4 linked regions of the Homo sapiens genome follow. The protein of the gene in region 1 interacts with the protein of each later gene in a pairwise test. Each region holds a gene or a part of one and is shown in the gene's direction. Other genes may lie near its edges.

Evidence for each region.
Region 2: the proteins of IL16 (region 1) and EFEMP2 interact in binary tests that used the Homo sapiens proteins (3 or more experiments, as listed by UniProt).
Region 3: the proteins of IL16 (region 1) and CAMK1 interact in binary tests that used the Homo sapiens proteins (3 or more experiments, as listed by UniProt).
Region 4: the proteins of IL16 (region 1) and SERTAD3 interact in binary tests that used the Homo sapiens proteins (3 or more experiments, as listed by UniProt).

Annotation. Positions count from the first base shown.
Region 1 is NC_000015.10:81,297,560-81,305,561, forward strand, and holds part of IL16 (pro-interleukin-16), read left to right. Parts: intron 1-1,744; coding exon of another isoform or gene 1,745-1,788; exon of another isoform or gene 1,789-1,820; coding exon 1,821-2,916; intron 2,917-3,784; coding exon 3,785-3,953; intron 3,954-5,989; coding exon 5,990-6,091; intron 6,092-8,002. UniProt on the Homo sapiens protein: Interleukin-16 stimulates a migratory response in CD4+ lymphocytes, monocytes, and eosinophils. Primes CD4+ T-cells for IL-2 and IL-15 responsiveness. Also induces T-lymphocyte expression of interleukin 2 receptor. Ligand for CD4.
Region 2 is NC_000011.10:65,869,030-65,877,284, reverse strand, and holds the start of EFEMP2 (EGF-containing fibulin-like extracellular matrix protein 2 precursor), read left to right. Parts: upstream 1-4,484; 5' UTR 4,485-4,602; intron 4,603-4,923; 5' UTR 4,924-4,930; coding exon 4,931-5,041; intron 5,042-5,266; coding exon 5,267-5,315; intron 5,316-5,921; coding exon 5,922-6,128; intron 6,129-6,626; coding exon 6,627-6,749; intron 6,750-7,047; coding exon 7,048-7,164; intron 7,165-7,308; coding exon 7,309-7,428; intron 7,429-8,255. UniProt on the Homo sapiens protein: Plays a crucial role in elastic fiber formation in tissue, and in the formation of ultrastructural connections between elastic laminae and smooth muscle cells in the aorta, therefore participates in terminal differentiation and maturation of smooth muscle cell (SMC) and in the mechanical properties and wall integrity maintenance of the aorta.
Region 3 is NC_000003.12:9,756,286-9,760,388, reverse strand, and holds the end of CAMK1 (calcium/calmodulin-dependent protein kinase type 1), read left to right. Parts: intron 1-638; coding exon 639-717; intron 718-813; coding exon 814-901; intron 902-1,102; coding exon of another isoform or gene 1,103-1,202; intron 1,203-2,542; coding exon 2,543-2,660; coding exon of another isoform or gene 2,661-2,767; coding exon 2,768-2,850; coding exon of another isoform or gene 2,851-2,872; 3' UTR 2,873-3,042; downstream 3,043-4,103. Other genes in the region: OGG1 (N-glycosylase/DNA lyase), read right to left, coding at 3,573-3,622, 3,768-3,918. UniProt on the Homo sapiens protein: Calcium/calmodulin-dependent protein kinase that operates in the calcium-triggered CaMKK-CaMK1 signaling cascade and, upon calcium influx, regulates transcription activators activity, cell cycle, hormone production, cell differentiation, actin filament organization and neurite outgrowth.
Region 4 is NC_000019.10:40,440,591-40,449,289, reverse strand, and holds SERTAD3 (SERTA domain-containing protein 3), read left to right. Parts: upstream 1-4,954; 5' UTR 4,955-5,075; intron 5,076-5,212; exon of another isoform or gene 5,213-5,435; intron 5,436-6,674; exon of another isoform or gene 6,675-6,735; coding exon of another isoform or gene 6,736-6,801; exon of another isoform or gene 6,802-6,967; intron 6,968-7,203; coding exon of another isoform or gene 7,204-7,209; coding exon 7,210-7,800; 3' UTR 7,801-8,446; downstream 8,447-8,699. Other genes in the region: BLVRB (flavin reductase (NADPH)), read left to right, coding at 1,244-1,401.

The DNA of each region.
Region 1 (8,002 bases):
GACATGACTTGAATATTTATTTGCTTGCTAGAGAGAGCATAGGACTTGAAGTCAGGGAATCCTGGATCTGTCTGTCATTAGTATGATTCTGAGCAACCTACTTTGCCTTTCTGAGCCCAGATTCACTCATCAGCAATGTGTGGAAGAGCACGTAGACCCCAAGCATATGATGCATTCAGCAAGCACACATTGAATGCTGGCTTCGTGAGGCCCTGTGCTAGATGCTGGGGGGAGAGAGAGAAAGGGATGAGACCAGGTAGTCAGGTCCTGCCTCCAAGGAGCAACTAGTAGTGGCAGGAAATAAACATATAGACTATAAAACATATGACTGTTTGAGTAACACTACAGAAAAGCTCATGAAAGACTTTTGGAGGGCTAAGGGACATTTTGGAAAGATCTAGCACATCTCACCCAGAGCAGAGGCCCTGTGGGTGGAGGCTCCTCTCCCTTAGTCACCCTAATTGAGGAACATTCTAGCAAAAGCAAACGCCTCAGTGTTTAACTGACAGGAGGTTGTCACTCCAATCTGCAAAGGGCTTGCCTGTGGAACCTCTGCCTCCTGATTCTCACAACAGCACCTTACAGCCAAGCCATTCAAAAATGCAGAAACAGGCTGGAGGCCTGGGCTCACTTGCCCAAGGCCAGTCTCTTAGATTGTGCAGAATTTCTCTTTGATATCATCAAGGTGTAATGCTCCATGATTCACTTCTTTTGAAACCTGGCATTGAGACAAGGGACAGGAGGGATCAGAGTTCCTTCAACTGGGTTGCGTTCCAGTAGCAAGCATCCCCCAAGGCACACAGGCCAGCCTCCCTCTGCCCCTGGGAAAGAGAGCCAGGACACCCTCTCCCTTACCCATGCAGATATGATGCTGGTTCAATGCTGGCTTCTGAGAAAGACTCCTATGTGCTCCAGGGCATGCCTGAGGTCCTGGCTGGCACAGAGCAGGTTGCACATTGCAATCCCCTGCTCATCACATTCCCAACACCCAGGCTGCATCCCAGGTATCTTCAGTCAGTACCTAGGGGTGGGCGTCAGTATTTTTCAGGGCCCTCCAGATTCCAGTATGTAGCCAAGGTGGAGAATCCTACTTCACAGATTCCTTTCTACCTGGAACCTTTTCATCAGCTTTTGAGGGAGGGAAAACACTCCTTTGCCGAGAGCAAGCTGATCAATGACCTGTGTATAGGCAGAGCAGCAAACACACGGCTTCAGGGCCAGGCAGGTACATACATGGGAAATGCTGGCTGGGTGAGAGGGAGCGTGAAGAGCTGTGGGAAGCCGAAGTGGCCCCATCAGAAGCTGTGCACAGGCACCTTGTTTTTAATGACACGGGTAGGTCAAAGCACAAACAGCTGCCAACTCATGACCTTTGTCTTAAAAGTTTAAACGGCAGGAGAACTGCTTTGGCTTTTACACATTTAACATGGTATCTTGGAGGCTCCTTAGTGCAGTAGAAAGGACATGAACTTCAAGAGTCAGGAGACACAGGGTCTTGCCTGAGCACTGCCATCAGATGGCCCCTTACCCTTCTTGAAATGTAATATGCCAGAGGTCGGCCCAGATATTCTCTGAGCACCCTTCCAGGCCTAAAACACTAGGATACTGTGAGATTAACTCCTACTTCTGGTCCTTCACTCCTGCCTGTTGGCAGCTCAGTCAGGTAATAGCACCTGGAGTTCACCCACCTGGGTGTCCCCCACTTCTGCTAATCTCCTCCTCTTGAATCCTTCTTGCTGTTCAGCTTGGAAACTAGAATTTAGGAAGAAAAGTCACTGTATGATGTAATGCACAGCTTTGGCCTTGTTTCTGCACTGTAGTGACCCAAACATCCCCGATAAAACACCCACTGCTTAAGAGGCAGGCTCGGATGGACTATAGCTTTGATACCACAGCCGAAGACCCTTGGGTTAGGATTTCTGACTGCATCAAAAACTTATTTAGCCCCATCATGAGTGAGAACCATGGCCACATGCCTCTACAGCCCAATGCCAGCCTGAATGAAGAAGAAGGGACACAGGGCCACCCAGATGGGACCCCACCAAAGCTGGACACCGCCAATGGCACTCCCAAAGTTTACAAGTCAGCAGACAGCAGCACTGTGAAGAAAGGTCCTCCTGTGGCTCCCAAGCCAGCCTGGTTTCGCCAAAGCTTGAAAGGTTTGAGGAATCGTGCTTCAGACCCAAGAGGGCTCCCTGATCCTGCCTTGTCCACCCAGCCAGCACCTGCTTCCAGGGAGCACCTAGGATCACACATCCGGGCCTCCTCCTCCTCCTCCTCCATCAGGCAGAGAATCAGCTCCTTTGAAACCTTTGGCTCCTCTCAACTGCCTGACAAAGGAGCCCAGAGACTGAGCCTCCAGCCCTCCTCTGGGGAGGCAGCAAAACCTCTTGGGAAGCATGAGGAAGGACGGTTTTCTGGACTCTTGGGGCGAGGGGCTGCACCCACTCTTGTGCCCCAGCAGCCTGAGCAAGTACTGTCCTCGGGGTCCCCTGCAGCCTCCGAGGCCAGAGACCCAGGTGTGTCTGAGTCCCCTCCCCCAGGGCGGCAGCCCAATCAGAAAACTCTCCCCCCTGGCCCGGACCCGCTCCTAAGGCTGCTGTCAACACAGGCTGAGGAATCTCAAGGCCCAGTGCTCAAGATGCCTAGCCAGCGAGCACGGAGCTTCCCCCTGACCAGGTCCCAGTCCTGTGAGACGAAGCTACTTGACGAAAAGACCAGCAAACTCTATTCTATCAGCAGCCAAGTGTCATCGGCTGTCATGAAATCCTTGCTGTGCCTTCCATCTTCTATCTCCTGTGCCCAGACTCCCTGCATCCCCAAGGAAGGGGCATCTCCAACATCATCATCCAACGAAGACTCAGCTGCAAATGGTTCTGCTGAAACATCTGCCTTGGACACAGGGTTCTCGCTCAAGTGAGTTTCTACACCCGGTGTTTCTCTTTACCTTTCTCATCTTTTTCTTTCTCATCTTTATTTTTAAAAATAATCCTATATATAATTTAAAAAATTCCCAGATATATTGATTAAAGAATTGTTCTGCCTCTTTCTTTCCATGTGTGTGCAGATGTCTGAGTGTGTGTGTGTCTGTCTGTAGGTATTACACCTCTGCCTTTCACATTAAGGAGGAGTTTTCACAACATCTGGCTTCAGGAGGGCTGGGAGGTAGGAGGTGGGACTGGCTCCCTGGTGAATTGCTCATGAGGGCTGACATACGCCTGTGGAGATTTGGAAGGTTGATGCACATCTGAAATGTCCTGCGGTTACTCAGAAAGACCAGAATGAGGCCAGGAAATTATCCATCAGGAATTCTTACTCTCCAAATGGAATCCACTTGTACTCTGCACGTGGGTTCAACTCCCTCGTCAGGGAGTTAGGATGTCTGGGTCCTAGTCTCAGCTTAGGCACTGATTCTGACTATGAGCAGGTTCTTTCCATGCTCACCCTCAGATTCCTTGTCAGTTGAAATTAGGAGATGGATGAGACCTTCTATGCAGAACCAAGAGGATGTCAGACGTGCCATAGGGTCCCTGCTGTAGGGCTGGGGCTTGGTCTTCCCTCTGATCAAAGTAGCTCTGCATTTATTAGTTTTATTTATTATTCTTACACTGCTGGGAAATATCTGTAGAGTGAAGGTATGCTAGTATCTACTCATAGATTTGTTGCATCAAATAATATGCACATAAGTGCTTGGCACCACACCTGGGACATAGTAATTATACAATCACTGTTACCTCTTTTTAATATTGTTGTTCATACTGTGTGTTGTTTCTCCTTATGAAAGCCTTTCAGAGCTGAGAGAATATACAGAGGGTCTCACGGAAGCCAAGGAAGACGATGATGGGGACCACAGTTCCCTTCAGTCTGGTCAGTCCGTTATCTCCCTGCTGAGCTCAGAAGAATTAAAAAAACTCATCGAGGAGGTGAAGGTTCTGGATGAAGCAACATTAAAGGTAGGTTTCCTTTGTAAGCATCTGCAGTAACCAATGGCTTATTATGGCTGTGTGGCCACCTTAGTTGGGCCAGAGGGGAAGTAGCTTGAGTAGCCTGCTCACATCAGACCCAGGTTGCGTCCTGTGATGGTGGGACACTGTAGCACTTGACCACAGTAAGACCTTCCATTTGAAGAGAGCCTTTTAGCTTGTGAACCACTTTCAGTAGATTGACTTCTTGCATCTTCTTTTGTCATTTTATAAATGAGAAAGGTAAGGCTCAATCAAGGTTACAGAACCTGGGTTTTCTGTCTCCAAGTTCAAGTTCAGTGCTGTTTCCACATTCCATGTGCTGCTGTCCTGGCATGTGTCTGTTGTGGGATGCTGTCCATTGTAAACAATGTGGGTTACAAGAGCTCTCACCTGGAGCTTTCATTATTTCCACTGTGCATGGAGAGGTGGCTGATCCCAGGGCTCACAAGTCCCCCACGCTTCAGTCAAGTCATTCTGAAAGTCTCACTTCCCATATGTTTTCTGAGCATGACCCAAAGGGGTGTGGGGAGGAAGTGGCCAGGCTGAGCTGGGGCCAGCAGTCAAATGAGCTCAGGCTCATGGGTCCTGCACCCTCTAGGTGCTGCCCCAGGCCTCCGTAGGCTTTTGGCACTAGAATGATCCAGGCTAGGATGAGAGGATAAGGAGGTTCTCGTTTTCCATACAAGGAGGCCTCATAGCTGCAATTTCCACATCAAGAGTGTAGGTGAGTCTGATGAGCCCAAGGTGCTGCTGTGCTGAGATTCTTTCGCTGTGGCTTTCACTTGTCACCTGGGACCATCATCCCCCAGGATCTTACTCAGTGCAAATGAAATAACAGAGGCAGAGCGTGTAAAACACAAAGAGCCATCCTGCCTGAGCTGCTCTGGGGAGAGTATTTGCTTTCTAACATGAGAAGAGCCTTCTACAAGGCAAGTAACCTGATACTTGGGTAAAAGTTGAGAGAGTTGGGCTAGTGTTGGGGCTTGGAGGTGAGGGTGCAGTGAGGTACATTCATCCTTCCATGCCTTTGGGTCTTAGGGGCTCCAAGTCTTAGGATCATAGGGACAGCTGCAAGTCAGGTGCTCTAGTGACGCTGAGCAAGTGAATTCTTTGACATAAGTTTACTCCTTAGTGCCAAGGTACAAACAGGTGCCCCAAGAACCTGTAGGTGTACTTTATTTGGTCTGCATGGTGATGAAAAAAATATTGAATTCTATACATGATAAAACCTGAATTGAAACCTGGACTTTAGGGAAGTGATCTGGTAGCGCTAGTTCTGTATGCCTACGTAGAGCTGACCCTTTGAGCAGATGTACTCGTTGGCGCTCTGCAGTTCCTATCACACATCTGCCCATTTGGCTCATTTTAGGGACCTGCCTGACTCCTATAGGCATCTGAGTTTGAGACCCCTGCTCTAGACTGGAATAGGAGTCTCTGACTGTGTCCTGGCTCCATGGGAGTCCCCGTCTAGGCTAGGAAGTACCGTAGTAATGTGTGTGTGTGTGTGTGTGTGTGTGTGTCACACTTGCACACTGTGCATTGGGGCAGGATGTTAGCTGGGCTTCCTTAGTGCTGCTGCTGTGACCCATGGAGAAGTAGAAGGGAAGAAGGAGCAACCAATTCCTGCAGAACAGCACTGACCCCTGTTTTGTTTTTTGTTGTTTTTTTTTTTTGTTTTGTTTTACCTGAAGTCCTACAACCTGACTTCATCTCACACTGTCCAATATGCTGATTTCTGGCTGACTTCATGGCACTCCCCCTGCCCGGCTGTGGACAGGGTGAATGAGAGAGGAAAATAATTATGCTTGCTGCTTTACATACATTTTTTTTTTCTTCTAAGCTTCCCATGACTCCTGAAGGTCCATTCTTTACAGATGAGGAAACTGAGGTTTGAGGAGGTGATGTAACTTGGAGGCTGGCCAAGCTGGGGTTTGAGATAACAAATCAGTCTGATGTCAGTCCGATGTTAAATTGTTCATCCTCTTGCAGTAAAATGTTTTTGAATGTATGTATTTCCTCTGCAGCAATTAGACGGCATCCATGTCACCATCTTACACAAGGAGGAAGGTGCTGGTCTTGGGTTCAGCTTGGCAGGAGGAGCAGATCTAGAAAACAAGGTGATTACGGTGAGTGGCCAAGTGAAGGGGCATGTCACAGCCAGAGGCAATGGTTCTGGGGGAGGGGGACACACTTGCCAGGAAGGGGCCCTGTGCTGGGGAAATGAAGAATGCATGACACTAGGCCACTGGGCAGGTCCTGTCCACTCAGCACATCCCAGAGCCTGGGGCTGCGTGGAGAGGGTAGCAGGCCTGGCCATGGGCATCTTTTCCTGTGGGTCCCACTATTCTGGCTCATCCAATCTGATCAGCATTGGCTGCTGCCTTCAGGTCACCTGTACCTGACCCAGATGGTTTCTGGTTCTGCCAGTTTTGTGGAGCCATGCTGCGGCTGCTCGCTCTCTAAAGCCGAGTGCATTGCTGTCATCCCAGGGCTGTGTTGTCTCAGGGTATCCTTTGTGTAGGCTGTGCTGGGCTCATTTGAATTTCCATGCCCAACTGAAAACAAATCCTCCAGTTCACAGCATCAGCCAGCATTCAACATACCACACCCCCTTGCAGTGGCAATCTGGCATGTTCCTGCGTGTCACTTCAGAGTCAATCATGTCAGTGGTGACTTCCTTGATTTCCTGATAAGTTTTCTATCACATAAAAAACACTTAAAACCTGTAAGTCTCTATTTCTCTCACTGAGTGCAGCTGAGTATTACAAAAAGATTCCTGACCGTGTAGTTTACTTTCTACTTGAAGAGGAGGAAAGAGAGCTTGCCTGTGGGAATGGCACTTTGGGTATTTTTCTCTGTCCATGAGTAGCAACTTCTGTCCACGTCATCTGGCCAGTCACCCTTGAGACACTGCAGACAACAGGAAACTAGGAGGAAGGCGCACATGTTGGCTGAGCACATGCACAAAAGCTTCTTTCTCCTTCTGTGTTTGAGCATTTCTCTTCCTTTCCAGATGATTAAAAGGGAACTAACGTAGAGCACCATCCACGGCCATGCTGAGCACTCACTGACCTGTTGTCTAAATTCATCCTACCCACACTTTGGATTGATAAATTGGTGGCATTTATGCTTCTTTTATAGAGGAGGAACCTGAGGTTCCTCCTTTAATTAACTTTAATCTTCGTTGGCCTAAAAATCCTCTAGCATTGAGGAACCTGAGGCTCAGAGGAGAGGTTCTGCTTCATGCTTGGATGTTACAGCCTGGGGATTCTAACCATGTAACAGAATTTTTCTAACACCAAAACAATTTAGAGAAGCAAAGAGCTTTGCTCCTATCATAAAAGCAAAACTACAGGTACCACATTTTAGTGGTTTCCATGCATGCTATCACTCAGTCCTCTTAATTATAATGGACCTCATTAAAGAGGCTGAGGCAGAGACATGAGATATTTTTGTGTGTTTGTTTATCCCACATATCTTGCAGAAAGGGGACCAAGAGGTGACTGGAGGTAAAGAGTCAGAATTTCTAGGGGAGGAGCTATAAAAATGTCTAGACTGCCTAGGAGAGTGTTTCTCAAAATGCATTCTGCCAAATGAGACCGAGAATTTCTCTATGAGAAAAGAATTCTTTGTTGAAACACTTTGGGAATCCCCATAATACCCTGCCAATACTTAGAAATCTGCCATGCAGATTTGCATTGTAGACCCTCTAAATGCCTTTTGCTTAGAAATCTGCTGCCATGCAAATTTGCATTGTAGACCCTCTAATGCCTTTTGCTTTTTAAAAGTAGACAATGTCAGAGCTTTTGTTTCACCCAGTATTCCTCAAGTTTCTTTGATTTTAAAAAATTTTTCTTGGCCGGGTGTGGTGGCTCATACCTGTAATTCCAACACTGTGCGGGGCCAAGGTGAGAGGATTGCTTGAGCCCAGGAGTTTGAGACCATCCTGGGCAACACTGGGAGACCCTGTCTCTATTTTTTAAAAAATAATAGGAAAAGCCTTTTTCTTACACAATACCCGTTAATATGCCATAGAA
Region 2 (8,255 bases), on another chromosome or scaffold:
GCAGTGTCACGATCTCGGCTCACCGCAACCTCTGCCTCCCGGGTTCCAGCAATTCTCCTGCCTCAGCCTCCCAAGTAACTAGGGCTACAGGTGTGCACCACCATGCTGGGGTAATCTTTTTGTATTTTTAGTAGAGACAGGGTTTCACCATGTTGGTCAGGCTGGTCTCAAACTCCTGACCTCAAGCAATCCACCTGCCTTGGCCTCCCAAAGTGCTGGGATTACAGGCGTGAGCCACTGCACCCGGCCGAGAAAACATTTGTTGAGTGAATCAATGAACTTCCTCCACCCACTCACTCATTTGTTCATTCAACTGCCTACTCTGCAGATCCCAGCTGGTACCCAGTAAGGGCTGGGCCATGGGCACAGGGGCCTCACTGCCTGAGAGGAGCTCCCTGCTTGGTAGGAGGGAGACACTGATCCAGTGGTGTCTGGGACCTTGAAAGGGACCCAGTGCAGAGCAGGCGAAGGCAGGGAAAGTCACTGGGGGTGCAGAGGACGAGGGAGGCATTCTGAGGAGGCAACTCCAAGTGGAAGGCTCACTCGGGCTGGATAGTGCAAAGATGGAGGTTCAGGTCTAGGTTGTGCACCAGCTGTGCACTAAGTCATCCCCCCTGGGCCTCATGTCTTCATCTCTAATTGGCAATGACAATTCTCAGGCTGAGGCTTGAGTGGAAGATACTTAGTGGAGCACCCACCACTGTGGCTGGCACAGAGTGGGTGTTTGCAGGGCGGGTCCTTAATGCTCTAATATGGGGCAAGGAGCCCAGCGAGTCTTGAAGTCCGTGGGACATGAGTGCAAGTCCCATCCTTCACCTGGGACAAGTCTCTCAGCCTCCCTATCTGTGAAATGGGGTGATAGCAGCACCCCTTTCCTGCCTTTTTTTATATTTCCTTTTTTTGAGACAGAGTCTTGCTCTGTTGCCCAGGCTGGAGTGCAGTGGCACGATCTTGGCTTACTGCAAACTCCACCTCTCCGGTTCAAGTGATTCTCCTGCCTCAGCCTCCTGAGTAGCTGGGACTACAGGCGTTCGCCCCCATAGCCCGCTAATTTTTGTGTTTTTAGTAGAGATGGGGTTTTGTCATGTTGGCCAAGTTGGTCTGGAATTCCTGACCTTAGGTGATCCACCCACCTTGGCCTCCTAAAGTGCTGGGATTACGGGCGTGAGCCACCGTGCCTGGCCTATTGTGGTATTATTACATACTATAAAACTCACATTTTTTTTTTTGAGACAGAGTCTCACTTTGTCGTCCAGGCTGGAGTGCAGTGGCGCGATCTCGGCTCACTGCAAGCTCCACCTCCCAGGTTCACGCCGTTCTCCAGCCTCAGCCTCCCGATTAGCTGGGACTACAGGCGCCTGCCACCACGCCAGGCTAATTTGTTTAGTAGAGATGGGGTTTCACTGTCTTAGCCAGGATGGTCTTGATCTCCTAACCTCATGATCCACCCGCCTCGGCCTCCCAAAGAAAATTCACTTTTTTGAAGTGTACAATTCAGTGGGTTTTTGTATGTTTGCATAGTTGTGTGACCATCACTACTATCTAGTGTTAGAATATTTTCATTATCCCAAAGAAAACCCAGACCCCATTAGCAGACACTCCCCATTCCCCACCTTCCTCTGGCAACCATTAATCTACTTTCTGTTTTTCTGGGTTTGCCTATTCTGGTTATTTCATATAAATGGAATACGTGGGCCAGGCACGGTGGCTCACGCCTGTAATCCAAGCACTTTGGGAGGCCAGGGTGGGTGGATCACCTGAGGTCGGGAGTTCGAGACCAGCCTGACCAATATGGTGAAACCCCATCTCGGCTAAAAATACAAAATTAGCCAGGTGTGGTGGCAGGCACCTGTAATCCCAGCCATTCCGGAGCCTGAGGTAGGAGAATTGCTTGAACCCAGGAGGCAGAGATTGTGGTGAGCTGAGATCATGCCATTGCACTCCAGCCTGGGCAACAAGAGCGAAACTCCATCTAAAAAAAATAAAAAATAAATGGAATATGTGGCTTTTTGTGTCTGGCTTCTTTCACTTCACATAGTAGTTTCAAGAATTCACCTATATTGGCCGGGCGCGGTGGCTCACGCCTGTAATCCCAGCACTTTGGGAGGCCAAGGTAGGCGGATCACAAGGTCAGGAGATTGAGACCATCCTGGCTAACACGGTGAAACCCCATCTCTACTAAAAATACAAAAAATTAGCCGGGCCTGGTGGCGGGTGCCTGTAGTCCCAGCTACTCAGGAGGCTGAGGCAGGAGAATGGCGTGAACCCAGGAAGCGGAGCTGGCAGTGAGCCGAGATGGCGCCACTGCACTCCAGCCTGGGCGACAGAGCAAGACTCCGTCTCAATTAAAAAAAAAAAAAAAAAAAAGAATTCACCTATATTGTGGCATGCATCAGTACTTCATTAGTTTTTATGGCTGAATAATGTTCGACTGTGTGGATGTACTGCATCTTGTTATTCATCAGTTGACGGCTTTTGTGTTGTTTCTGCATTTGGCTCTTATATATAGTGCAGCTATAAACGCTGCGTACAGATTTGTGTGTGTGTACATATCTTTTCAATTATCCTAGGTATGTATACCTAGGAGTGAAATTGTCAGGTCATGTGATAACATTTTGAGGAACTGCCAGACCATTGTCCACCAACAGTGCATGAGGGCTCCAGTTTCTCCGTATCTTTGCCAACACTTGTTACTGTCTTTCTCGTTTTAAAGAGCTATTATTATTATTACTATTTTTGAGATGGAGTCTCGCTCTGTCGCCCAGGCTGGAGTGCAATGGCACAATCTCGGCTCATTGCAACAACTGCCTCCCGGGTTTAAGAGATTATTCTGCCTCAGACTCCCGAGTAGCTGGGATTAGAGGCACGTGCCACTACACCAGCTAATTTCTTTGTGTTTTTGTAAAGACAGGGTTTCACCATGTTGGCCAGGCTGGTCTTGAACTCCTGACCTTGTGATCTGCCCACCTTGGCCTCCCAAAGTGTTGGGGTTACAGGCGTGAGCCACCGCGTCGGGCCTATTATTATTATTATTATTTTAAGATGGAGTCTCCCTCTGTCACCCATGGAGTGCAGCAGTGTGATCTGGGCTCTCTGCAACCTCCACCTCCCGAGTTCAGGTGATTCTCCTGCCTCAGGCTCCTGAGTAGCTGCGACTACAGGCACGCGCCACCACGCCTGGCTAATTTTTATATTTTTAGTAGAGACGGGGTTTCACCATGTTGTCCAGACTGGTCTCGAACTCCTGACCTCAGGTGATCCACCTGCCTCGGCCTCTCAAAGTGCTGGGATTACAGGCTTGAGCCACCGCGTCCGGCCCCTAAAGAGCTATTATTTAACCTTCTGCCCCAGCAGCTGGGAGGGATGGTGGTGGCAGAGTGGCGAGGAGCGGGCACTGCGCAGTTCACCTGAGCCCCAGGCGCTCGCCGCGGGACCCACCAGCACGTCCCCTCCTCGGCAGACTCCCTCCCCGGGGTCACGTGGAGGGCGACTGCGGGGATAAGCAGGGATGGCAAGGGGAAAGGAAGGGCGGGCCCCAGGCGGGGGATCCCCGGACACGCAGTGCTTTCCCGCCTGGCCCCGCCCAAAGACGTGGGCAAACAGAGGCCACGCCCTTCCTGGGAGCCAGCCCCGCCCATACTCCGCCCCAAGGACACGCCCCCACTTCGGGCGGAGGCGGAAACCGGGCGGGGGACGCTGGTGCGAGGAGGTCGAGGAGGCGCCTTGGCACCCGACTCTGGCATCCCGCACGTCCGACATCAGCCCTGCCCTCCTTCTCAGGGGCTTCCATTCATTTTGTGCCAAAAGGGAACTGCCGCCCTCGCCCCCAAACTTGTAGCTTTGTGGATGGAGGGTGTGGGGGAGGCCGTGTGTAGTGAAAGGACCACCCGGCTGAAGACGGTCCTGGGGGTGGAGGGCAGGAGGGAGCGAGAAGGACAGTTCTGCTCCTGGGAGCCTCTCGTTCCTGGGCGAGGGTCTGGGGACCCTGGATGAAGTTTTAGGATCTTTTACAATGACGGTCTGGGGCAGAGAATAAAATTTTGCAGGGAGCAGATTGAGGGTCTGGAGGACTGGGTTAGGTGGGCTCTAGGTACCCAGGACGATCTCGGGAGGCGCACAATGAGAATCTGGGGGCTCCAGGATTACGGTGTGGGTGCACAGGATGAAATTCTGGGGGCGCAGATTAGGTAGGACCTAGGTGAGCAGGATGACATTTTTGGTGAGCGTCTGGGGGCCCCCGGGTGAGTCTGGGGGCCTGGCATCAAGGTCGGGGCCCCAGGATCGAGCACTGGGGGACCCTGGTCCGGCGCCGGGAGGCGGCTCCTGGCGGCGCCGCGGGGGACCGGGTAGGGGCCTGTGGCTGGCCGGGGGCGGAGAAGCGGGGGGTCGGGGTCCCTCCCCCTGGCGCTGGCTCAGGAATCCGCCGAAGGGCGGGCGGAGGCGCCGGGGTGGGCCGCGCCGCGGCAGGCGGGCGGGCGGGGGGCGCTTCCTGGGGCCGCGCGTCCAGGGAGCTGTGCCGTCCGCCCGTCCGTCTGCCCGCAGGCATTGCCCGAGCCAGCCGAGCCGCCAGAGCCGCGGGCCGCGGGGGTGTCGCGGGCCCAAGTGAGTGGCTGTGACCGTCCGTGGGGGAGGGCGTGGGCCGGAGTCTCGGCCGAGTCCGCGGCAGCGTAGCGCCCACAGAGGCCCGCGCTCCTCGGCCTTCGCCGCAGGGGCGCGGGGCGGGGGCGGGGTGGCCGGGGCGGGTGGGCCTGGGACCCGGGCCTGGGACCTGGGCCTGTGAGGAGTCGGCCCCCAGCCCTGGGAGGCCCCGAGGCCCAAGCACGGTCCTGAGCGGGCAGTGGCGGGGGCTGGGCTCGGGCTCCCGGTACAGGGAGTTGAGGTGCCGCGGGCAGAGGCCCCTGACCCGTGTCCACCATCTCGCAGCCCCAGGATGCTCCCCTGCGCCTCCTGCCTACCCGGGTCTCTACTGCTCTGGGCGCTGCTACTGTTGCTCTTGGGATCAGCTTCTCCTCAGGATTCTGAAGAGCCCGACAGCTACACGGTGGGGACAGTGAGGGCCGCTGGCCTGGGACAGGAAGGGTAGGGAGGAAGAGACCGGGACCCAGGGTGACTGCTGCCGGGGAAGTCTTCCTCCCCTGGCTGGTGGAGAGCTGGGGGCCATTGTTTGGAGCAGGCCGGAGGGTGGCCAGGCTCAGGCCCTAGTCTTGGCCTGGCCAGTTGGAGGAGATCTTAGGGTGACCACTGGCCACTTCTGGTTCCCTTCCAGGAATGCACAGATGGCTATGAGTGGGACCCAGACAGCCAGCACTGCCGGGGTGTGTGTGCCTGGGGGACCAAACACCCCCAGGAACCCGGAAAGGGATTGATAGCTGCTTTCCAAGGGACAGCCCCACCTCCAAGAACTGCCGTGGGAGCCCAGCAGCCCGTTCTATGCCCAGCTCTGCTACACAGAGGCCAGCTCTGGCTCTCTGGAGGCCAGTTGAGCTAGGGGTGGCCTCATCCTCTCCCAGAAACCCAGGAAACCTTGTCCCTACCCCTCAGAGGAGCTGGATCCTGTACGCCTTCTCTGAACCACTCTCCTGTCCCAGCTCTTTGTCTCATCACAACCTGGGAGGGTAGCGTCCCCAGGGGTGGGTAAGGAGGCCCCCCATCTTGGGCTGAGCTAGGGCTAGGGCCGTGGGGAGGGATAGAGACCCACTTGCAGGCCGAGAATGAGGGCAACAGTGGGAACAGCTGCCCCATCTCCAGCCTTGGCCAACCCTGGGGAGGGGTCCTGAGCAGGCAGACTTAGCTTGTTGAGCAGAGTGGGAAGGCTTTGCTGGGGCCACACATCTCAGAGAAGGCCGAGCTGGGTTCCTGCCTCCGCTCCCTCCAGGGCCAGCCCAGGAGACTGGCTGTGCCCAGCAGGCCCCTCTCTGCAGATGTCAACGAGTGTCTGACCATCCCTGAGGCCTGCAAGGGGGAAATGAAGTGCATCAACCACTACGGGGGCTACTTGTGCCTGCCCCGCTCCGCTGCCGTCATCAACGACCTACACGGCGAGGGACCCCCGCCACCAGTGCCTCCCGCTCAACACCCCAACCCCTGCCCACCAGGCTATGAGCCCGACGATCAGGACAGCTGTGTGGGTGAGTGGGGACTGCTCTGGTGCCTGGCTTCCAGTCCTCTCACCAGGCGTCTTAAACTCAGACCTCATGTTCCTCCCCAGCTCAAAAGGGCCACTGGTGATGTCCACACCCTCATCCAGACACTCATGTTGTTTAGGACCTGCCGCAGGTGGCCCCAGCTTGTGTGCCACTGCTCCAGCCAGCTCCGGGCCCCTCCCCTCGGTTGCTGCAGAGACACTGCAGGAAGTCTGCCTTCCAGTGTCTGTCCCCTGGGAGCCACAGGCCTTGGAGGAAGGACAGTCCAGGAATCAGTGTTGCTGGGGATGTTTGGACAGGACCTTATTTCCTGTGCAACCCCCAACATGTGGTTTTAGAGGTTAGGGGTGCCTTTCCTGATGGCTCCAGGCTGGTGAACTCTTACGCGTGCTGTTGAGAGAACCGAATACAAGTGTTGGAACTATCTGTCATGTTGGGTGGTGTGCGGGATCCCAGGCAGGGGCTGAGTGGTGTCTCTCGCAGATGTGGACGAGTGTGCCCAGGCCCTGCACGACTGTCGCCCCAGCCAGGACTGCCATAACTTGCCTGGCTCCTATCAGTGCACCTGCCCTGATGGTTACCGCAAGATCGGGCCCGAGTGTGTGGGTGAGTCCAGGAAGCAGCTTCTGTAGTCCCGGCTTTGTGTCCCTGGTCTGGCCCTTGCCCTAGCACCTGACCCCCATTCAAGCCAGGCTTCACCCCCGGCCCCTGCCACCTCACCCTCCGTCATCAGACACAGAGGACTGTAGCGGGGAGTGTTTGGGAGGTGTCCTGGCTGACCCTGCCTAATTCAGCTCCTCGGACACAGGATTATGGGTGGTGAAGCCTTGAGTCCCAGCCGGCTCGAGCCCACCTGCCCTCTGCCCTCTGCCCTCCGCCCTCCTTCTCCTGCCTCTATCCCTAGACATAGACGAGTGCCGCTACCGCTACTGCCAGCACCGCTGCGTGAACCTGCCTGGCTCCTTCCGCTGCCAGTGCGAGCCGGGCTTCCAGCTGGGGCCTAACAACCGCTCCTGTGTTGGTGAGGCTGGGCTGGGCCAGGCTCCTGGGTCCTGGGCAGGGAGGTGTGAGGTGGGGGCGCTCCCTTCTTGACCAGCCCAGGTAGAGTGGAGGCTCTGGGCTCCTCCTCCGCTTTCATCCCTCCTGTTTTTCCTGGCACCCCCAGATGTGAACGAGTGTGACATGGGGGCCCCATGCGAGCAGCGCTGCTTCAACTCCTATGGGACCTTCCTGTGTCGCTGCCACCAGGGCTATGAGCTGCATCGGGATGGCTTCTCCTGCAGTGGTGAGAGCTCCATCCCTGCTGTGTACTCCTCTGTGGACCCCCAGGCCCTAGCTATGCCGTGCCTCCTGCCACACAGTTCTCCATTTGAGGCCTCCGCCTCCTGTCACTGTGCACCCAGCTGCCTCCTGGGTACTCGACCCCGGCTGGCTGTGGAGCACTCCCAGGCTAGTGGGGGAGGCACAAGGAGAGGCAGCTACGTCCTTACTGAAGCCTACTGGTGAGACTGAGGATGTGGGTGCCACCTGTCCCACATATCAGGCTCACCTGCATTTACCTGCATTTGAATTTTGCACTAGGACAAGTCACTCCTCTCTGAGCCTGTTTCTTCTTCTATAAAATGGGTTGTCTTGAGGATTAGGTGAGAGTGTGATAGATGGGCTCCAGCAAGTCTCAAGCTGCAGTGCTTTAAAGTGAATGAACTGCCACTTAATGAGAACCTGCCCTCGTAGTGTATTCCCTGACACACTTGGCCTCCTTCCTCTCAAGAATCCTAGGAGGTATGATTTTCTCCTTCCTCTACAAAATGAGGACATTCATATCTCCCTCCACGTTTGTTGGGAGGATTACATAAAAATAATCACAAAGTCCTGGGTAAATGGTGACTTTCATGATTCAGCTAAGAGAGGTTAAGTGACCCGCCCAAGCTCATACAGCCAGGATGAGATGGGGCCAGGGCTGGATCCCAGACTTCTTACACCCTGTAAACTGGCATGTACCCCCTATGTTATGCTTTGCTGCGGGATGAGGCCTCACTGCTACCTGGCAGCATGAGGGGAACAAGAGAAAGGAAATGTTCTGCCTGTGAAGCTCACAGTTAGTTGGAGGTG
Region 3 (4,103 bases), on another chromosome or scaffold:
TGTCTAAAACACCACCATAAACATTTTCATCCTCCTTTTGTGCCCCCTATTAAGAAGCAAACCTGTGAAGCTACTATCGTTTATCATCAGTGTGAATGCACTGAGATTAGTCAAGAACAACTTTTTTTTTTTTTTCTTTCTTTTTTGAGACGCAGTCTCGCTCTGTTGCCCAGGCTGGAGTGCAGTGGCACAATCTCGGCTCACTGCAACCTCTGTCTCCCGGGTTCGAGCAATTCTCTGCCTCAGCCTCCCAAGTAGCTGGGATTACAGGCGCCCACCACCATGCCCGGCTAATTTTTTTTGTATTTTTAGTAGAAACAAGGTTTCACCATCTTGGCCAGGCTGGTCTTGAACTCCTGACCTCGTGATCCACCTGCATTGGCCTCCCAAAGTGCTGGGATTACAGACATGAGCCACTGTGCCCGGCCATATGTTTTTCTTAAGAGAGAAAGGAAAGAGCTGGAAGGCACGGGGTGGGAGGGCCTGAAGAAGAGCATAGGTTGGGTGGGGTGGGGCATGGACTGATTTGGCCTCTTTGTCTTGATGCCAGGCCAGACCTGAGGGAGTGGGTATGCTCTTGGGGAGTACACAGGCAGTACCATGCTGTCATTATCTTTGCTTTTGTCTTGGGGGTTTAGCCAAAGATTTCATCCGGCACTTGATGGAGAAGGACCCAGAGAAAAGATTCACCTGTGAGCAGGCCTTGCAGCACCCATGGTGAGAATTCACACAACCTGTGAGCTGGGGCGGGATTTGGGGCCCTCAGGTCTGCTTCTGCCCTCATAGGCAACCCACCACATAACCCCATCCTAGGATTGCAGGAGATACAGCTCTAGATAAGAATATCCACCAGTCGGTGAGTGAGCAGATCAAGAAGAACTTTGCCAAGAGCAAGTGGAAGGTGAGTCCATATCCCTAGTTCTGGTCCCAGCCTCCCCAGGACTCCTCCCCATCCCTACCCAGGCTCAGCTTGCACAGCACCTGGCATCACACTGGGCACACAGTAACTGCTTAGGGATCCTTACTGAAGGACTTCATTCATTCACTCTTTCATTCAACAAACACTCCCAACACCTTCTCTATTCCAGAGAGGGTCCCTCACCTCCAAGTCTAGAGGAAGAAGTCTGTAATTCTTCAGGAGGCATCTGATCCAGCCTATGGGGTCCGAGAAAGGTCATAAAAGTGGTGATGACCTGACAGAGCTGTCAGTTAAGTAGGAATTAGTGAGGCATAGCGGAATAATGTCTATAGCCATTCCGGGAAGTGCAAGTGCTAAGCCTGGCCAGACTGGAGGGGCTGAGGGGACTGAGAGGCAGGAGCCCAATTTAGAGAAGCAGGTAAGGGGCCAGGCCTCTTAGGGCCTCATATGCCACAGAGGAGCACCAACTTGATCCTGAGGGCACTGAGGAGCCCCAGAAGAATCTTAGGCAAGTATTTGCTGCATAGAAAGGGCTCTCAGGGCCAGGCATGGTGGCTCACGCCTGTAATCCCAGCACTTTGGGAGGCCGAGGTGGTTGGATCACCTGAGGTCAGGAGTTCAAGACCATCCTGGCCAACATGGCAAAACCCTGTCTCTACTAAAAATAAAAGAATTAGCCACACATGGTGGTGCGTGCCTGTAATCCCAGCTACTTGGGAAGCTGAGGCAGGAGAATTACTTGAACCTCGGAGATGGGGGTTGCAGTGAGCTGAGATCGCGCCACTGCACTCCAGCCTGGGCAACAAAGTGAGACTCCACCTCAAAAAAAAAAGAAAGAGCTCTCAGGATGCAGAGAATGGCATGGAGTAAAGACTGGGTGACGCATTAGGAGGCTGTGGCAGAGATACAGGCAGGAGATGGTAAGGGTTTGGAACCACAGTAGCAGCAACAGGGGGCAGAGAACAGTGGTTGATCCAGGAGTCATTTAGGAGGTGAAACTGACAAGACATGACGATGCAATGGATGTTGGGGGAAAGAGATGTCAAGGGCTGGCCCAAGACTGTGGCTGGGAACAGAATGGATGGTGGTGGTACCATGACTGAGATGGTTATCACAGGGACAGAAACATGTTTTGGGGGGATGGTTTTAGTTTTAGACATGGTGAATTTGAGGGGTGTGTGGGACACCTAGGTGGAGATATTGAATAGAGACACACCTGAGCAAGTTACTTCAGCTTTCTGTGCCTCAGTTTCCTCCTTTGAAAATGATAATAGTACCTACCTCAAAGACTTTCATGAAGATTAAATGAATTACTACGTAAAGTGCTTAGAACAGTGCCTGACATACAGTGCTATAGTGTTTGCTATTACATATTAATATGAATTATAGTTATGTTTCTATTTATATATATAGATACACATACATCTAACATATGTGCGTGTGTGTGTGTAAATATATAATAAAGCCTTGTAGAGGTTTTTGGGGGGCTTTAGGGGAATTAATAAAATAACTCCTGAATGAAAATAACAGAACAATTGCAAGAATCCCACTGCGCCCCTGCCCCATGACTTGACTCTCTCAAAAGTCCTTTCTCCCCTCTCCCTTCAATGCCTTCAATGCCAGCAAGCCTTCAATGCCACGGCTGTGGTGCGGCACATGAGGAAACTGCAGCTGGGCACCAGCCAGGAGGGGCAGGGGCAGACGGCGAGCCATGGGGAGCTGCTGACACCAGTGGCTGGGGGTGAGGAGCGGGCTCTGCAGAAGGGCATGGGTGGTCCACAAAGGTGCACCCGGGCTGGAGTGGAGGGCCTGCCCCTGCGGCCACCTCTGTTCTGTCTTCCCATGCAGGGCCGGCAGCTGGCTGTTGCTGTCGAGACTGCTGCGTGGAGCCGGGCACAGAACTGTCCCCCACACTGCCCCACCAGCTCTAGGGCCCTGGACCTCGGGTCATGATCCTCTGCGTGGGAGGGCTTGGGGGCAGCCTGCTCCCCTTCCCTCCCTGAACCGGGAGTTTCTCTGCCCTGTCCCCTCCTCACCTGCTTCCCTACCACTCCTCACTGCATTTTCCATACAAATGTTTCTATTTTATTGTTCCTTCTTGTAATAAAGGGAAGATAAAACCATCCTTAGCGCTGTCTCCCTCAATATCCCCCACCCCATCTTGTTGTGCAAACTGACTGCTTGATTTGGGGGTGCCTGGCCTTTGAGGTAGTCACAGGGAGGCCCCTCCCCAACATGAGACTGGGTGGGGATGGGGAGAGAGAAGTGGGGAATGGAGGGGAAGGTGCTTGGGGAATTTCTTTGTCCAGGGTGCCCCATCTAGCCTTCCGGCCCTTTGGAACCCTTTCTGCGCTTTGCTGGTGGCTCCTGAGCATGGCGGGATTGGCGCAGGTCGGCACTGAACAGCACCTGTAGGAGGGTGGAGTCTGTGTGGGGAGGAGGGTACACTGGGGTCAGGGCTGGTGAGACTAGTGACAGTGTTGGGAGGTGGAAGAGTCCTTGGGGAACAGGGCCGAAGGCAATGAGAATCCACTGGGGTTGGGACAGGGGTGGCTGGAGAGTCCTTTAGGGCCACCTGGGGCGGTGGTGGAAGAGTCCACTGGGTCTGGGCTGGAGGAGAGGAAACCTAGGGAGGACACCTAGGTACACTCACCGCTTGGGCCCAGCCAGCATAAGGTCCCCACAGGCTCCGGAAAAAGTTTCCTAAATCAGAAGTGATGAGACTAAGTTATCTGACCCCTTCTGTGACCCATCAACAGAAGTAGGGTCTGAGGGAGAGGTGACTAAGAGAGAGAGAAGTTTCTACCATCCCAGCCCACTGCCAGCCCCTGCAGCCCACTTTCCTCACCCAGTTCCTTGTTGGTCTGGGGGCTCGGTCCCTTCGCCTGGGACGTGGTAGGGTGCCAGCTGTAGTCACGTTGGGCAATGTGCCACATATGGACATCCACGGGCACAGCCTGGGGCTTGTCTAGGGCCATCAGGCAGATGCAGTCAGCCACCTTTGACAGACACAGAATGAGCCCTTGTGGAAGAAGGGCAGCATGTGGCCAGCATCTTGCTTATAGCCCCAAAGCCGGCTGCTTTCTCCTTCACTCTGGGGTTACTGTTGTTCTATATTCTCAATCAACAGATACTATCTATGAATACACTTTTTTTTTGTTTGTTTTTGAGATGGAGTCTCGCT
Region 4 (8,699 bases), on another chromosome or scaffold:
TGGGTGACAGAGCAAGACTCTATCCAAAAAAGAAAAAAAAAAATTCAACCCACTCTGCCCTTTTTCTTTAAGTTTCTCATAACATTAACCAGGCCAGGTGACTTTAAAGGCCCACATTCTGGATTTTTCTAGCTGTTTTGTCACAGATTCAGATTAAACATGTTGGGCAGGAATGCCACATGGGTGAAGGTGTGTGTTCCTTTTTTTTTTTTGAGACAGGGTCTCCCTCTGTAGCCCAGGCTGGAGCGCAATGGCACAATCTTGGCTCACTGCAACCTCCGCCTTCTGGGCTCAAGTGATTCTCCTGCCCAAGTAGCTGGGACTACAGGCATAAGCCACCACACTCAGCGAATTTTTGCATTTTTTGTAGAGATGTGGTTTTGCCATGTTGGCTGGTCTCAAACTCCTGAGCTCAAGTGATCCTCCCACCTTGGCCTCCCGAAGTGCTGAGATTACAGGCGTGAGCCACTGTGCCCAGCCAGGGCAGGAGCTTCCTGTCTGCTTTGTCCCAAGCAAACACACAGCCAAGGGTGTGTGTTCCATACTGTGCATAATTCCAGCCTGTCTCTGTTTGGGTGATGGTACATTGTATCCCTAAGTTTAGTTGGTTACTGTCAGATAGACAGATATATATCTATCTGACAAATATATATATATATATATATATATATATATATATATTTGTTGTTGTTGTTGTTAGAGACAAGGTCTTGCTCTGTCGTCCCGGCTGGAGTGCAGTGTCACGATCATGGCTCACTGTAGCTTCAACTTCCCTGGCTCAAGCAATTCTCCAGCCTCAGCCTCCTGAGTAGTTGGGACTACAGGGGCATGCCACTGCACCCGGCTGATTTTTGTATTTTTAGTGGACTCAGGGTCTCCCTGTGTTGCCCAGGATAGTTTCAAACTCCTGGGCTTGAGTGATACTCCTGTCTCAGCCTCCCAAAGTGCCAGGATTACAGGCATGAGCCACCGCCACTGGCCAGGGCAGGGGATTCCTGTCTGCTTTGTCCCTTGCTTGGGTGCCCAGCACCTGGCCACACAATAGGTAATCAATAAGGATTTATCGAATGAATGAAGCAAAGGATATAGATGAGCACCTGCATATGGAAAGTCCATTCTTGGCTGTGACACCACCCAGGCTGGACACACAGTAGGCACCCTGGGAAGGTCTTTCTGGGGGTCGAATTTTGGGGGAAGGGAAAGGTGTCTGCTTTATCCAGCCCCTCTTGTCTTTACTTCATAGGAGACCAGCCACTAACTGGGGCGTACACAGTGACCCTGGATGGACGAGGGCCCTCAAGGGTCATCTCCAAACATGACCTGGGCCATTTCATGCTGCGCTGCCTCACCACCGATGAGTACGACGGACACAGCACCTACCCCTCCCACCAGTACCAGTAGCACTCTGTCCCCATCTGGGAGGGTGGCATTCTGGGACATGAGGAGCAAAGGAAGGGGGCAATAAATGTTGAGCCAAGAGCTTCAAATTACTCTAGAGAAACCGACTGTGTGACTCTTCCTCTCTCTGCCTCTGTCTGAGTATTTTGGTGTGTCTGCCTGCCTCTGTGTAAGATTTGCTTGTTATGCATTCATTCATTTGTTCAGTAACAGTTTATTTTTATTTTTTTATTTTTTTGAGACCGAGTCTTGCTCTGTCGCCCAGGCTGGAGTGCAGTGGCGCAATCTGGCTCACTGCAAGCTCCACCTCCCAGGTTCACACCATTCTCCTGCCTCAGCCTCCCCAGTAGCTGGGACTACAGGCGCCCACTACCACACCCAGCTAATTTTTTTGTATTTTTAGTAGAGACAGGGTTTCACCGTGTTAGCCAGGATGGTCTTGATCTCCTGACCTCATGATCCGCCTGCCTCGCCTCCCAAAGTGCTGGGATTACAGGCGTGAGCCACTGCGCCCCGCCCAGTAACAGTTTATTGAGTCTGGCCAGGCATGGTGGCTCATGCTTGGAATCCCAGCACATTGGGAGGCCGAGGCGGGTAGATCACTTGAGGTCAGGAGTTCAAGACCAGCCTGGCGAACATGGTGAAACCCTGTCTCTACTAAAAATACAAAAATTACCCAGGCGTGGTGATGCACACTTGTAATCCCAGCTACTTAGGAGGCTGAGGCAGGAGAATCGCTTGAACCTGGGAGGTGGAGGTTGCAGTGATCCGAGATTGTGCCACTGCACTCCAGCCTGGGTGACAGAGCGAGACTCCATCTCAATAATAATAATAATAATAACTTAGCTGGGCATGGTGGTGTGCACCTATAGTCCCAGATACTCAGGAAGCTGAGGTGGGAGGATGGCTTGAAGCCAGGAGTCCAGGTTGGGCAACATAGTGAGACCCCATCTCTACAAAATAATTTTTAAAAACTTAGCTGGGCATGGTGGTGTGTACCTGTAGTCCCAGATACTCAGGAGGCTGAGGCGGGAGAATGGCTTGAGGCCAGGAGGTCAAGGCCTGGCCACTGCACTCCAGCCTGTAGGACAGATCCAGACCCTGTCTCTGAAAATAAAAAAAAGTTTGTGCTTTATTTTGAGGATTTATGCAAGGAGTGGAGCACCAGAGAAGTAAGGCAGGGGGGACAGTTGGGTGTTTTATGAAGCTTCCTTTGGCTACTCTGTGAAGGTGGAAAGGAAGGGTCCAGGAATGGAGGCTGATAGCCCAGAGGGAGTTGGAGGAGGAACTGTAAGGAGGGGAGGAGAGAGTGGGTGTGAGGAATGCCTGGGAGCCTGCGTGGACAGTTGGTGAGGGGTGGAGGGGAGGCATCAGAAAGAAGCATACGGCTGTAACCCGGGGACAGAGTTACACTAGTGCTTCAGGAGGGAGGCTGAGGCTGCAGTGAGCCAAGGTGCGCCACTGCACTCCAGCATCCACGACGGAGTGGGACCCCGTCTCAAAAACAAAAACCCAAATGCAGTAGGGCTTTCCTGAGTTGTGGACCCTATAGGAGGCGCAGGTTTTGGAGGAGGAAGGGGAAGAATTGCTCCTTCCTAATTATGTCCTTTTTTGGAACCTACTGTCCCTTTCTTTTTTTCCCAGGGACACCTTCCCTAGGCCTGGGTGAGCTAAGACACTTCTCTCTCCCTACCTCCAACCCACACCACCCACCTACCTATTCCCCTCCCATTTATCCTGCAAACATCAGGATGACTTGGTTGACAAACTCCAACCGGCAAGAACTGGTCTGAGGAGGCTTAAACCTCCCTTCCCAGAGGTGGCCTGGAGAAAACTGCCTCCTCCCCTTAGGGAAACTCGTTGTAGGGGCGGAGCATTACGGGTGTGGGCTTTCAGGACACTAGCAGTGTCTTCTTTCTGCCTTATTTTTCTGTCACATTCCTGAGCATTTAGCAAACTTTCACTGGGACCTGCTACGTGTCCAGCCCTGTGCTAGGTGATCCTGCAGACCAAGAGGTGGTTGACAGAGATATCCTTGGTACCTGCCCTCGGCGGGGCGTTCCTCAGTCCATATAGTAACTGACAGTCCAGGACTGGGATGGCGGCACAGGAGGCCATGGAATCCTAGAATGGATCCTAACCCAACCTGGACTGCCAGGGAGGGCTTCGGAGAGGAGGAAACCTTTGAAATGTGTTCTGAGAAGCAGCCTGGGAATTGAGGGTATATTTTGAGGATGAGGAAACAAGTTTAAATATCCAGAGGCGAGAAGATTGCTTGAGGCCAGGAGTTCAAAACCAACCTGGGCAACACAAGAAAACCCCCCTCCCCCCTCCCCCATCTCTCTGTCACCCAGGCTGGAGTGCAGTGGCACGATCTCGCCTTCACTGCAACCTCAACCTCCCAGGTTCAAGCGATTCTCCTGCCTCAGCCTCCCAAGTGGCTGAGATTACAAGCGTGCGCCACCACGCCCAGCTAATTTTTGTATTTTTAGTAGAGACGGGGTTTCACCATTGTTGGCCAGGCTGGTCTCAAACTCCTGACCTCAAGTGATCTGCCCGCCTCCGCCTCCCAAAGTGCTGGGATTACAGGCGTGCGCCACTGCGCCCGGCAAAAAATAATATTAATAATAAAGATCCAGAGGCCTTTTATTGTCATGTTTGCGAACTTATTATGTACCTGGCATTGTTGTAGACACTGGGGTAAAGCAGGGAAGAAAACAAACAGAGAAAATCCTTTCGTTTTCCTGATGGGGTGAATGGGAGCTTGAAGCCATTTTAGAAAAACTGGAAGTGACTCAATGGGGCAGGATCGGAGAGAACCAGGAGAACGCATCAAGCAAGGTCGTGAGGGGCTTTGTGGCAAAAGGAAGGAGTTTGAAGTTTGTATTCGGGGTGGGTAGGAAGCCATGAACAGTAGCAGAGGAGTCATCTTGATGGAGCGGGGAAGGAAAGAGGGTGTCAGAAGACCCAGGTGGGACCACCAGAGGACGTGCTGAGAAAACCTGAGGATTAAGAAGGGGCCGCGCGGTAACGTATAGGGGGCGGGAGGGGCAGCAAGGGGGCGAGGCTACGATCGCCTAGGCAACGCGGGCCGCGCCACTCTATTGGCTGGTCTTCCGCTACGTCATCCCCCGCGCCCCAGCGTCCTCCCTCGGAACCCCGGGGGCGCGGCCTCCTCCGGTTGCTCGGCCCCGCCCGCCTGCACAGCGACTTGGGGAGGGGCATGCCAGCCCCTCTGGCTCCACGGTGGAGTCCAGGCCTACCATAAAGGAACCGCAGGGAGCAATGGTGACGATCTTGGAGCGAGGACTGTAGCTGAGTGGAAGGAAGCGGTTCTGTTGGACCGGCCGCCCTCCACCCCGGAGTCGCTGCCCCGCCCCCTGCCAGTTGCACTTCTTTAAATGGCCCGGGGCGCTAGGGAGGGGTGGGCGGATCCGGCGTCTCGGGGCACGGGCGGATGGCTCCGCCCAGCCAATCGACGCCCCGCGGCGGGCGGGACTCCAGCCAATCGCGGCTCGCGGCTCGGCTCCGGGGCGGGGCTGGTGGGCCAGAGGCCAGACGGAGAGGCCCCGCCGAGGTGAGCGAGGCTCCAACCGGTCACTGGTGGGTCCTGGCACTGGCGGGTCGCAACGCTGTGGGCGTTCCAGGAGGTGGTCGTGGCGAACCTGGCAGCTGCGGTGAGGAGTGGTCGCCTGGCTTGGGAATTTACCTTAGGCTGGGGGAGAGAGAAGCGCGCCCCGGGGACTTGCGGAGGCGGGGTCTGGGTGGGACCGGGGGAGGGGGCCTCAGATTCAGGGTGATGATAGGGAGGGTCTGGGGACCTGAGACTGAGTTCAAGACCCAGGAGGGGAGGCGAGGTTGTTGGGGCAGTATTTTCAAGTGGAGGGAGTTTGAAGCTGGGACGTTGGGCTTTTGGAGAAGCGAGAGAACAGAGGGGAGGAACTTTTGAGACAGGGAACCTGGAGATTCGATTCCACTTGGGTCTTCCGGACGGGTTGAATTCGGGGCTTTATCGTGTTCTGGAAAAGGTGTGAGAGGTACGGAGCTGAGATTCTGAGTATTTGGAGAAGCGAGAGAACTAGGGTCAAGGATTCTTGGGACTCCAAGACGCACTGGCGGGGGAAGGAGGTTGCCGGGAAGAGTTCAATGTTCGGGTCTTGGAGCCGGACAGCGAGTTTGGAGGTGAAGTCCAGGGGCGTTTGAAAGTCAGGAGACTAGGAGAAGTGGGAGGAAGTATCAGAATTAGGATACGTAGTCTCCCGAACTAGATCGGAGCATTGTCGTCTTTGAGCGATGTGTTCGGATCTGGGTCTCTGGATCCAAGGGCAGTTTGGAAGGAGAATCGCGGACTTTCAAGGAACAGAGGGACCGGGAGAAAGCAAATTTAGAGCCGGAGTCTGGGGTGGGGGAGGGGTGTTCCGGGCCTGGAGCTCAGACTCGCGGCCCCGGAGGCAATGGAGGGCGGGGCTCGGCAGGCGCCGGCAGCTGGACGTCCAGGTTCCCTTCCCCCACCCGCCTGTGCCCCTGTGCGCATGCCCTGAGGGAGAGCGGGGTGAGGGGGGTGGCTCGTCCCCTGGACGGGCGGAGCCCTCTGGGGATTGTAGTGCGTGCTCGACGTCAATTCGTGTACCTGGCGGCTGTTGGCCCCCGTTTCCCAGAAGCCCCTGGGCCAAATTGGGGCGTTCCTGGATGCTCTGTAAGGACCCATGGGGGGGCGGGGCCTTACAGTGTCGCGGTCTGATTGAGTGGGACCTCCGAGGGGGCGGGGCTTGGTCTGAGCTGAGTTCTAGCAAGTTTTCCTATGGGGCGCGCTTTGGGGGAATCTGAAAGCGTGGGCAGAGGGAATGAGACAGGCCCCTTTCCTACTCTTGGGAGCGCTCCCAGTCGGTTAAGGAAGAGGACATAGAAATATCCCGACTGTTGAAGAAGAATCTCAACATAGGTTCCCCAACAGGGCTCCAGGAGATTTCGAATATAGTAGGCACTCAGTAAATCTGTTGAGCGAATAACTGGCAATTAACTCTTGATCGAGGCCGGGTGTGGTGGTAATCCCAGCTACTCAGGAAGCTGAGGCGGGAGGATCGCTTGAGCCCAGGACTTCGAGACTGCAGTGAGCTGTGATAGCGCTGCTGCACTCAGCCCTGGGCGACAGAGCGAGACCCTGTCTCTAACAAAAAACAAACACAACTCTTGTTCATTAAGCACTTCCGGTGTGGTGGGCCCTATAGATACGTGGCATCTCCTTGACAGAGGTGGTGAGAAGTATTTTTTTACAGTCCCTATTTTACAGATGAGGAAACTGAGGCCCTGAGAATTGACTCATTCAGATCACTTCCCATGATCACGCAGCTGAGCAGTTTCCAATACAGAATTCAGATTTGGGGTTCCCTACTTCCAATCCAGGTCTCTGTGCTCCACACTTGTCTTTCGTGCTCCATGTTTGAAGAAATTAATATTGTGGAAGAACAGTTTTAAGGCTTAGAGGAACTTGAGTTAGGATCCGTACTTGGCAGATGAGGAAATTGATTCTCATGGATGTAAATTCACTGTTTGAGGCCACAACAGGCAAGTAAGTGAGATTTAAATCTAGCTGTACGTAACGCCAGATCTTATTTTCTTAATCGTATATGTACTCACCTTCTTAAACTTGTAGGATTCAGACAGCCTTCATTTTATACATCAGTAAACTGAGATTCCGATGATTAAAAATCACTAACAACTCAATAGGCCTGAGAAAGTGGGATATGAGCCAGCACTACGGTGTCTGGTGTCTGACCTTCCCCTATGCGCCTCTTCTCTCTACAGGGCATCATGGTGGGAGGCTTGAAGAGGAAACACTCTGATTTGGAAGAGGAGGAGGAGAGGTGGGAGTGGAGTCCAGCAGGCCTTCAGAGCTACCAGCAAGCCCTGCTCCGCATCTCCCTAGACAAAGTCCAGCGCAGCCTGGGCCCCCGAGCACCCAGCCTCCGCAGGCATGTCCTCATCCATAACACCCTCCAACAGCTGCAGGCTGCACTTCGCCTGGCTCCCGCCCCTGCCCTGCCCCCCGAGCCCCTCTTCCTGGGCGAGGAGGATTTCTCCCTGTCAGCCACCATTGGCTCTATCCTCAGGGAGCTGGACACCTCCATGGATGGGACTGAGCCCCCTCAGAATCCAGTGACTCCCCTTGGCCTCCAGAATGAAGTGCCACCCCAGCCTGATCCAGTCTTCTTAGAAGCTCTGAGCTCCCGGTACTTGGGGGACTCTGGCCTGGATGACTTCTTTCTGGACATTGACACATCTGCGGTAGAAAAGGAGCCTGCACGGGCCCCACCAGAGCCTCCTCACAACCTCTTCTGTGCCCCAGGTTCTTGGGAGTGGAATGAACTGGATCACATCATGGAAATCATTCTGGGGTCCTAAAACTGTGATAGAGGGGATCGATCCTTCCTCATGTCATCTTCGGTGGCCTGGATCCCTGAATGCAACTCTGGGTGTGTGTTTTTGTGGGGGCTCGAAGCAGTGACTATGGCCTCCTTTGTTCCCATTTCAGGGTTCCACAAACTGTCTTGCATGTGTGTGTGTGTCTGGTTACCCCGACCTTCTGTGAAGGTGGGTCTTCCTGAATTAATTTATCTATTCCAAATGCCTTAACGAGACTCTGTTTCTGGGAGTCTGATTTTCCACTTACACATTTCTTCCACCTTTCCTGCTAGTTCCCACTCCCCTGTGACCACTGGGGCCTCAGGGAAGATAAAGAAAGCTGGGCCTGTCGAAGGATGACAGGGATGTGCTGCCAGGTTGCTATAGAAACCCAGGCTCTGCCTCTTGCACCTTGAGGGGGTGGGAGGGGCTGGTGTCCTCCCTCCAGGCTGAACCCCACTTCCTCGGCAGGACCCCAGTCTCAGCAGCCTCCTGATTTCATAACCAGGCCGGACCACGTGCAATAGGGTGGAAACCAAACTGCTCCATGCCGGGTTATTTAAAAGAAAGGCAGAGTTTGTGGTGGCTTTTTTTTTTTTTTTTGGATTGTTTGTAATTTTTTTAAATAAAAGTATTTTGGAAGGAGGGATGTTGTCTAATGTTTCTAAACTTCACTGGGTCAGTGGGAGGGACCTGGTAAGTTCCTAAACATCAGCACCACTTCCGTGCCATAGCTGGGGTAGGTGTATCATTGTACATGACATTTATTGAGTGCTTGTTGGCTGAGTGCTCTAGCTCCCACTTGGAATCCTAGCACTTTGGGAGGATCTGCTTGAGGCCAGCCTGGGAAATGTGGCGAAACACTGCCTCTACAAAAAATACAAAAAGGAGCTAGGCAT